2 linked regions of the Homo sapiens genome follow. The protein of the gene in region 2 interacts with the protein of the main gene of each other region in a biochemical or structural test. Each region holds a gene or a part of one and is shown on either strand. Other genes may lie near its edges.

Region 1 (3,751 bases), on a different chromosome or scaffold from region 2:
AGCTATGCTCTGTGAAACAATAGCATTTCACGCCAGTAATAAAACTGCATTTTAAACTTGGAAATGTCCAGGATTAGAAAATAAAGCTTTGGCACTGCTGATAAAACATACCCAATTTGAAGCAACTATGACAAGCAAAAAGTCAGCTTATACCAGAAACTCTGAAGACAGTCAATTTAAAGGACAAAAAGGTTGTTGGGCACAGTTTTTTTTTTCTTTTACTGCATACAGTTCCCTGCTATCTAAAATTGTGATTTATGCAGTATTTTAATATTTTGCTTATTCTTTCCCCTTGGGTGCTCTCCGGGCAGCGATAAAAAGGCGACGCTGAAAGAGCACCATTAATTTGCTATGATGACTGGCCAGATAAGAGGAGATAATGGGAAAGATAAGCGGAGAAGATATACCATCAGAAACCCGATTATTACCATTAAAATTCCAGCCCAGCAATCTGCAGAAGCCTGATAATTCCTTCTCCGTTTCCACCACTTTGGATGATAAGGCAAAAAATAGTCACTCAGTGCTCCTTGATTAGACTGCCTGGATTTCCTGATAATACAGTGATAAATTATGTATTTTGCCCCCATGTTTTGTCCCAAAATTCAGATTTTTTTTTCCTATTCCAAGACTATATTTTCTGCCCTCCCCTCAGAAGCTTTCTCTCATAAGCTATTATTGTAATCCTGGTTTGATAAAAAGCCCTGATAGGACGGGAGGTGTTTGGTGTGGGAGCCATATCATGCTATCAGCCCATCTCCCCGCACAGCTGCTCGCTGTTGTTGTTTTTAGCCTTATCACCTCCTGCCAATATGCCAATAAATTGCCCAGATTGTTCTCCATTCTGGGGCTGCAGTGCAAAATTTATGACAGAAATGATGATTTTTTTCTTTTACCAATGCATCTCTTTATGATTAGTAAATGTGTTGTGTGTGCAGTTTTATTGTTATTTTCTTCTTCAAGCTGTTGTCTCTAGTAATGTGTTTACTGCCTTATATGTCCCCAACTCCAGTCACACTGAAGTGTATTGGCTATGGGTGCAGGAAGAGGTGGACATCACTTTTTTTTTTTTTTTTTGCAAATGAATGTCATTATCTGCTCTCTAGTAGTTAATATAGAGCTTGAAAAGGAGAAACTCAAGTAATTTATTTTTGTATAAGATTAGGAAAAGGCACTCTTCTTTATACCATAAAAGTAGAGTTTTCATAAAACTTTTAGATTGCTTGATCTTTTCAGAGCGTAGTGCATAAATGTTTGGTCTAGATCAGGTGCCAAATAATTTGTGGTGAAGTATAATGAAAGGGTGAATTAAGAGGCAGAATGTTTTCTTCTTGAAAAGTGAAGCAGATACTGGAAATTAGCATGCATGTTGAAAGTAAAATGTTCTGGTTAGAGAATAATCTTGTTAGCAGTTCGGTAGAGGGTCTTTCCCAGAAGTTGGAATCCATTCATATTGAATAATTACCATTTTGTTATTTGAGATGATATAACAATTTTAGGCCGTACGAATTCCTAACTTGCGCATTGGCATTTTAATGTTCTATGCTATTTTTATAAAGGGTAGGTTATAGTCAATATTTTATGCATAAAACAATTATTGTTTTAAAATAAGAATATTATATATTAAATTTATTATTTAATATTTGTCACATGAAAACCTCTAGTTGGATCATTTCTATAACCTTAAAATTATGTTATGCAAATAATTGAGTATGGCTATTTTTCATTGTTCTATGGGTCTTTTAAAAGTCTTTCTTCTATTGATATTCAATCTATAATTTTAGGGTTAATTATCTACTGTGTTGTCTTTGATATTTTTATTTTTAAAAATGTTTTGGGAATACTACCTATATTTGAAAACATTGATCATTGTTATACACAGTTAGAATGTCTTTTTTTTCTCCTGCCAAATATTAAGACAGGTTTTTGTTTTGAAACAAATAAGTTATTTTTTTTCTGAATTTTAGGGATAATTGAATATAATGCAAAATAATTCTTCTCTTTGGTCTGTAATACTTCTCATATTGGAGATTTTTATTTTCTACATTTTTGACTGAGCAACATTTCGGAAAACCTATTTTTACACGTGCCACAAATTAAAGGAACCTGTATTCTGTATAATAGTTGTTTTAGCAATAAAACAGATAGAATAGTACCTATTGCTTGTAAGATAGCATAAAAATAATTTCCTGATTTATGAATTTGAAATAATATCAATGCATAGATTTTTTCTGGAAAAATCTAGGAATAATTATTTAGTGGATTTAAAAACAGACAAATCTTAAGATGACCAATATAGTCATTTTGGTTTTTAAGAGTTAAAGACAACCTAAGAAAGTTTACCTGTAAAAGATCATTAGTCATGAAGTTAGGTTTTTTAAAGTTCAATGGAGTCAGCAATGTAAATATAAATGAACTAACATTTTTATCTCTAATTGCTTAAGAGTTTAGGGCTAAAACTTGGAGATATGACTTGAAATAAAAGAGTAGGTATGTTTTCCACTTCTGGTAACTTTCAAAGTAGTTCATTTGTAAAATTATGGAGTAAGAGGGACTATCAAGTTTAATATTATATATCTTAGTATTTCTTGGGTGAACACACAAGTTTGAATTTTCTATAAATTGCAGTTAGAGACCTTAAGAATAGTAAAATTGCATCAATTTGGTTGCTATGTGACTTGCCATATATTAAGTTGGTATTATTAAGTTAGGAAGGAAGACAATGCAATTAAGTGATTTGCTCCTGATTTTTATGTTCAGCCAATTTAAAATTTCATTATATGTTTAAGAGTTAATACAAAGATTTATACATTGCTTTGTTTGGGGGTAATCTGGGGATAAATTAAGATAGTCATTGATTATATCAATTGTCTAGCCTGTATCTATTAATATATCTATGTTTTGCCTATATCTATATGTATCCATATTATTATAGTAATGTCCATTAAGTTAACTTTGCATTACAGTTAAGGTAACTCATTTTTCTTGTTCATGAACTGTCCAAGGACTTTCTCATCCATGTTATTTCTGCTAGTTGAGGCCTTGCTATTCAAGAACTAATTAGCTCTTTTTTCAAATGATTTTTAAAAAAGAAACGAAAGTCTAATTAGCCATTTCACTATTAGTTGTTACCACTGGAAAAAGTTTTAAGAGGACAAGATTAAACCTAACACTCTAGCTAAAATGAAGGATTTGGGACTAGTGTATGGATTTCTAGTATCGATGTTTTTGTTCTTCCCCATAACCAGGACAGATCAACAATGGACTTCTCAGTTGCATTTTAATCAAACCCTATTTAAATATATAACTTTTCCTCAAAAGGTATTAAGTGAATAAACTAATTTTATTTATTCTACATTCTGTAATTTATTTTTACATTTCAAGAAAACACCTTCCCAGATGAACTTTCCTTGAAAATAACTTAATGTGTATTCAAGTTTTAAATAAAGTGATACCATTTAGAGAAAGTTTTTTGATGTTTGGCCAAATTGTGTGAAGAATATAACATTAGATTTGTATGGGAATAAGAAATATTTTTCAAAAGTAGCTTCCTTTCTTAAATGTAATCTTTGTTCACTAAAAAGTATGAGTGGATATGTTAACTTTGGAGTTCTTATCCTCCAAGTCATATTCCCTTGGATTCTTTGTTACCTTCCCAATTCCAAAGGACTAGTAGGATATTTCAGAGAAACACTGCAGATGTTTTTGAAACCCGGTCTAATTCAACACCTGCCACTGTGTAAAATTATCAGTT
Region 2 (3,751 bases):
CTCTTCAACACTGACCTTCAGCCTCTGTGTGCCCCCCGACCCCCGAGTTTATAATGTCTGGGACTAAAGGGAATGGTTCCCTCTGTGAAGTTTAGTTCAGGGCTTACGTAAATAAACAGGGCCCAACTCATATAAATTTGATGCTAAAAGTGAATTCTACCTGTCGAGAGCTGCCTGTAGCCAGCAGGACAGGAGCCGGCTGCACTGTGGAGCTGAGGCTGCCCTTGGCAGGCCAGAGGCACGGAGGGGCTCACCTGTGATGGCTCGGCGGATCTCGGTGGCAGCTGCCTCCCTCATCTCCAGTGACGCCTGCTCACTGTACCAGGCAGTGTGAGGAGTGCAGATGAGATTCGGGGCATCTTTCAACGGACCCTGAGCAAAGCTAGAAAAATGTAGAAAAAACAGAGTAAGCGGGAAATGTCGCATACGCTCCCTGCCCTCCTCAGCACAAGGGAGCTCTTGGCCATGTAGAAAAGTAGCTACATAGATAGCATGGATACAGGAACATCTGTGATGATATTTTATGAAGGCTGGGAATTTTTGAATGTAATTATCAAAGTTGTGTAAGAACCGTATAATTGGTAGATCAAAAAGCCCAATTCTATTGAAGGCTTGTCCTGCTGTAATCCAGGGCAGAGATGATGCCTGTCTGTCTGAAGACCAGAACCACTGCCACACCCCCACCAATTTTCTGCCTCTCCTTTCCCTGATGACCTCTGGGAAACTTCCAGCCCTTTTACAATTAGAATACAGCACAATCCTTAGAAGAACAGAGACTGTAAATGTCATCTCTGGAGTTTCCTGCCCAGGGACCTGTTTGGGAAAAGGGCCTCGAGTTCAAAGTGTGGGGGTCAGGTGTGGAGCTGGGCCCTGTGGGCTCCTGGTAGGCGGCTGGGGCAACACGCACCTGAAGGGCTCTGACTCATGCACGTCGAGGGCTGCCCCTCGTATCCTGCCCTCCTTGAGGGCTTGTGCTAAGGCTTTCTCGTCCACCAGGCCGCCACGGGCTGCGTTCACAAGGAATGCTCCCTGCCTCATCTGTGGAAGGAAAGAAAAGCCGGTTACAGGCACACTGGCATGGTGGAAGACTCTTGTACCAAGGTTTAAAGAAGAAAGCTGCAAGCTAGTTTTGTTGGTCTGGTGGTTTAATGTGTGTGCTGCAGTTTGAGGGAAGGGAGTGGGAAGTGTTGGTGACGGCTGGAAGCCAGGGCCGTTGCTGCTGATCCTGAGAGGAAGCAACACGGTGGAAAGGCTGGACTGTGCCGAGCTGCTGGCCTCTTTAAAGGTTCTGGGAAGCTTCTGAAGCTGGGTCCTGGCTAGCGCCTGTCCTTCTCTGCTTAGCCTGGCTCAGCCCGAGGAAGGGGCTTCACGTGGCTTGTCACTGGTTTGTTGCAGGGCCTCTTCCCTGCTCAACAGTGTATCCAGAAACCACCTCCGTTGCCCTCCGTGTCCCTCTTGTGCCCACAAGCAAGTGCTACCACCTTTCGACAGAAGCTTCCATGGCATCTATTTTCAAATTACCTGCTTTATGGTAAAGTCATTGATGAGGTGGTGGTTATGTTCGTTGAGATTGCAGTGCAAGGAGACGCAGTCGCTCTGATACAGCAAATCCTGCAGGGTGTAGACCCTCTGCACGCCCAGGGACCGCTCGATCCCATCCTGCAAGTAGGGGTCATAAAATATGACGCTGAATCCAAAGGCCTTGGCTCGAACTGCAACCGCCTGCCCCGTGCGACCTGTACAGAAACAGAGCGTCCAGGTGAGTGAGTCCACAGCCCGCGCCCCAGCGCTGCCACCTCCATTGCTTCTGAGCTGAGTCCGGGCTTGGCATCCCCGCTGGTAGCTGCTGCCAGAGAAACCGTGTGCCCAAAGCTTAGTGAGGCCTGAGGCGAGCACTGCCCGCGAGGGGCCACCATGGCCGGTGTAGGACAGGTGAGGACCGCAGTGCTTGCTGCTTATATTGGGTACAGCAGGATTTTTGTTAAAAACAAAACAAAACCCTTCCTTGTTATTGACATTTTCAAACACAGAGTGTTCTGACAAGCCCACATGCCCCTCCCATCACCACCCGTGTCCTCCGTTCCCACCCCTCTCCCCACTTCTTGTGTGCACTGCAGGCTTCTTAACATGAGCTTTGTGTTTGAAAAACTTGCTCTCAATGTCACAGGGAGTAATGTCCTGCCTCCTCATTGCTGGGCTCGCTCCTGCAAAGGGTGACATGAGCACAATGGCTCCCTGCAGGCTGGCCCGAGTGCAGACTGGCCACATGCTACTGTGTTCTGGGCGGGAGGCAGGGCACATGACCATCAGACCTGGACCTGTCCCACTGGTGGGGCCTCGCGCCCATCTGCATTATGCAGCCTGGGCCTCCCGCCAGCTATGTCACAGGATGAGGAGGTGTCTCCCACTCCCCAACGGCTGTCATTTCATAAACCCATGGGGTCCCCCTCGATAGCACCTCCAGCTTCCCAGAGCAGTTTTCAGCATTTTGAAAACAAAATGGTTAGTGTTGATGCTCGACTGGTTCTCTTGGAGATCACAGAAGGAATCTTTAAAGCCATGGCTCCAAGGTGCAGGCAGGAGAAGGACAAAGATGCGCATTTCCGAGCAGGCAGCCTGTGTTCCAGGGGTACCTCAATGCTGGATGGCTCCTCCTGCAGCAGCTCCATCTAACCGATGGCCTGGCTAGGACAACTGCCGTAGTTTAGAACAAAGGTTGAATAAGGCCAGTCTGATCAGGGACAGCTGCAGGACAACTAGTATAGCAAGGCACGAACCATCACGCCTCTCCTCCTCAGTGTCACCCTTTACAGCAGGCAGGACTGGACGGTGGCAGGGACGGAGTGAGAGATGGCTCTCTGACGCACTGGCAACATGAAACTGAGGACCCCAGCATGCAACTGCTGGGAGCTCACACTTCACAGGACCCCCGCCTGCCTTCCCCCGTTCCTGCAGCCTCCATCCCCCTCATGGCGTCTGTGCACGAACATGCTTCAATCAGTGGGGCTCACACTCTGCAGATCCAGGGCCTGGAGGGCCTGTGGAAAAGCAGCCCAGAGCACCAAGCCCAGATTTGAACCGTGCCGACGGCTATTTCTTTGTTTTTTTTTTTTTTTTTTTTAAAGTTCACAAACCCCTTGAACTTTATCCATGAGATTTTCTGATGACCCAATGACTTAATCCTGCTACTGACTTAATCAAAACCCAGTCCCTACAGAAGAGACCTGCTCCCCCGTCACAGCGCCCCCCCCGGCCCCCCATGCCGCTTATTTTAAAAGCGCAGCTCCCACAGGCTGCCTTTCCTTCAGTTTCTGTCCATGCCCCCAGCCCCAGGCTGCCCTCTCTTGGCGGCACCGTCCCACCCCGCCTGCTGCACTGAGCCCGCTGGGCCTGGGGGACTCTTGCTCAGTAGAACCCGAGGCCAGCAAAAGCTCTTAGCCCAGGATGGCTGCAGCAGCGACAGTCCTGAAGGCTACAGAGACACCTGGAAAGGGAACAAGGAGAGCACGACAGTCCCTGTGCTGAGGATCCAGGGTGGTGGCGGCAGGGGTTAGTGTACAGTCTCGAGAAAACAGGGCGGCGGCAGGGGGCTGCACTGACCTCTATACACCGAGAGGGTTTTTAAAGTTGAATGACAAGGGCACAGCTACAGGAACGACCCCAGGAAGAAGTCCCGTGACGGCTGGAGTCAGAAGCCCCTGAAACAAGCACCTCCCCAGTGAGGCCCCACCGTGTACCCAGGGTGCTCATG

The links.
Region 1: the proteins of CTBP2 (region 2) and ZFPM2 form a complex in vitro, tested with the Homo sapiens proteins (2 studies listed by BioGRID).

Annotation. Positions count from the first base shown.
Region 1 is NC_000008.11:105,321,395-105,325,145, forward strand, and holds part of ZFPM2 (zinc finger protein ZFPM2), read left to right. Parts: intron 1-3,751. UniProt on the Homo sapiens protein: Transcription regulator that plays a central role in heart morphogenesis and development of coronary vessels from epicardium, by regulating genes that are essential during cardiogenesis.
Region 2 is NC_000010.11:124,992,948-124,996,698, forward strand, and holds part of CTBP2 (C-terminal-binding protein 2), read right to left. Parts: intron 1,737-3,751; coding exon 1,522-1,736; intron 1,039-1,521; coding exon 908-1,038; intron 383-907; coding exon 255-382; intron 1-254. UniProt on the Homo sapiens protein: Corepressor targeting diverse transcription regulators. Functions in brown adipose tissue (BAT) differentiation. Isoform 2 probably acts as a scaffold for specialized synapses.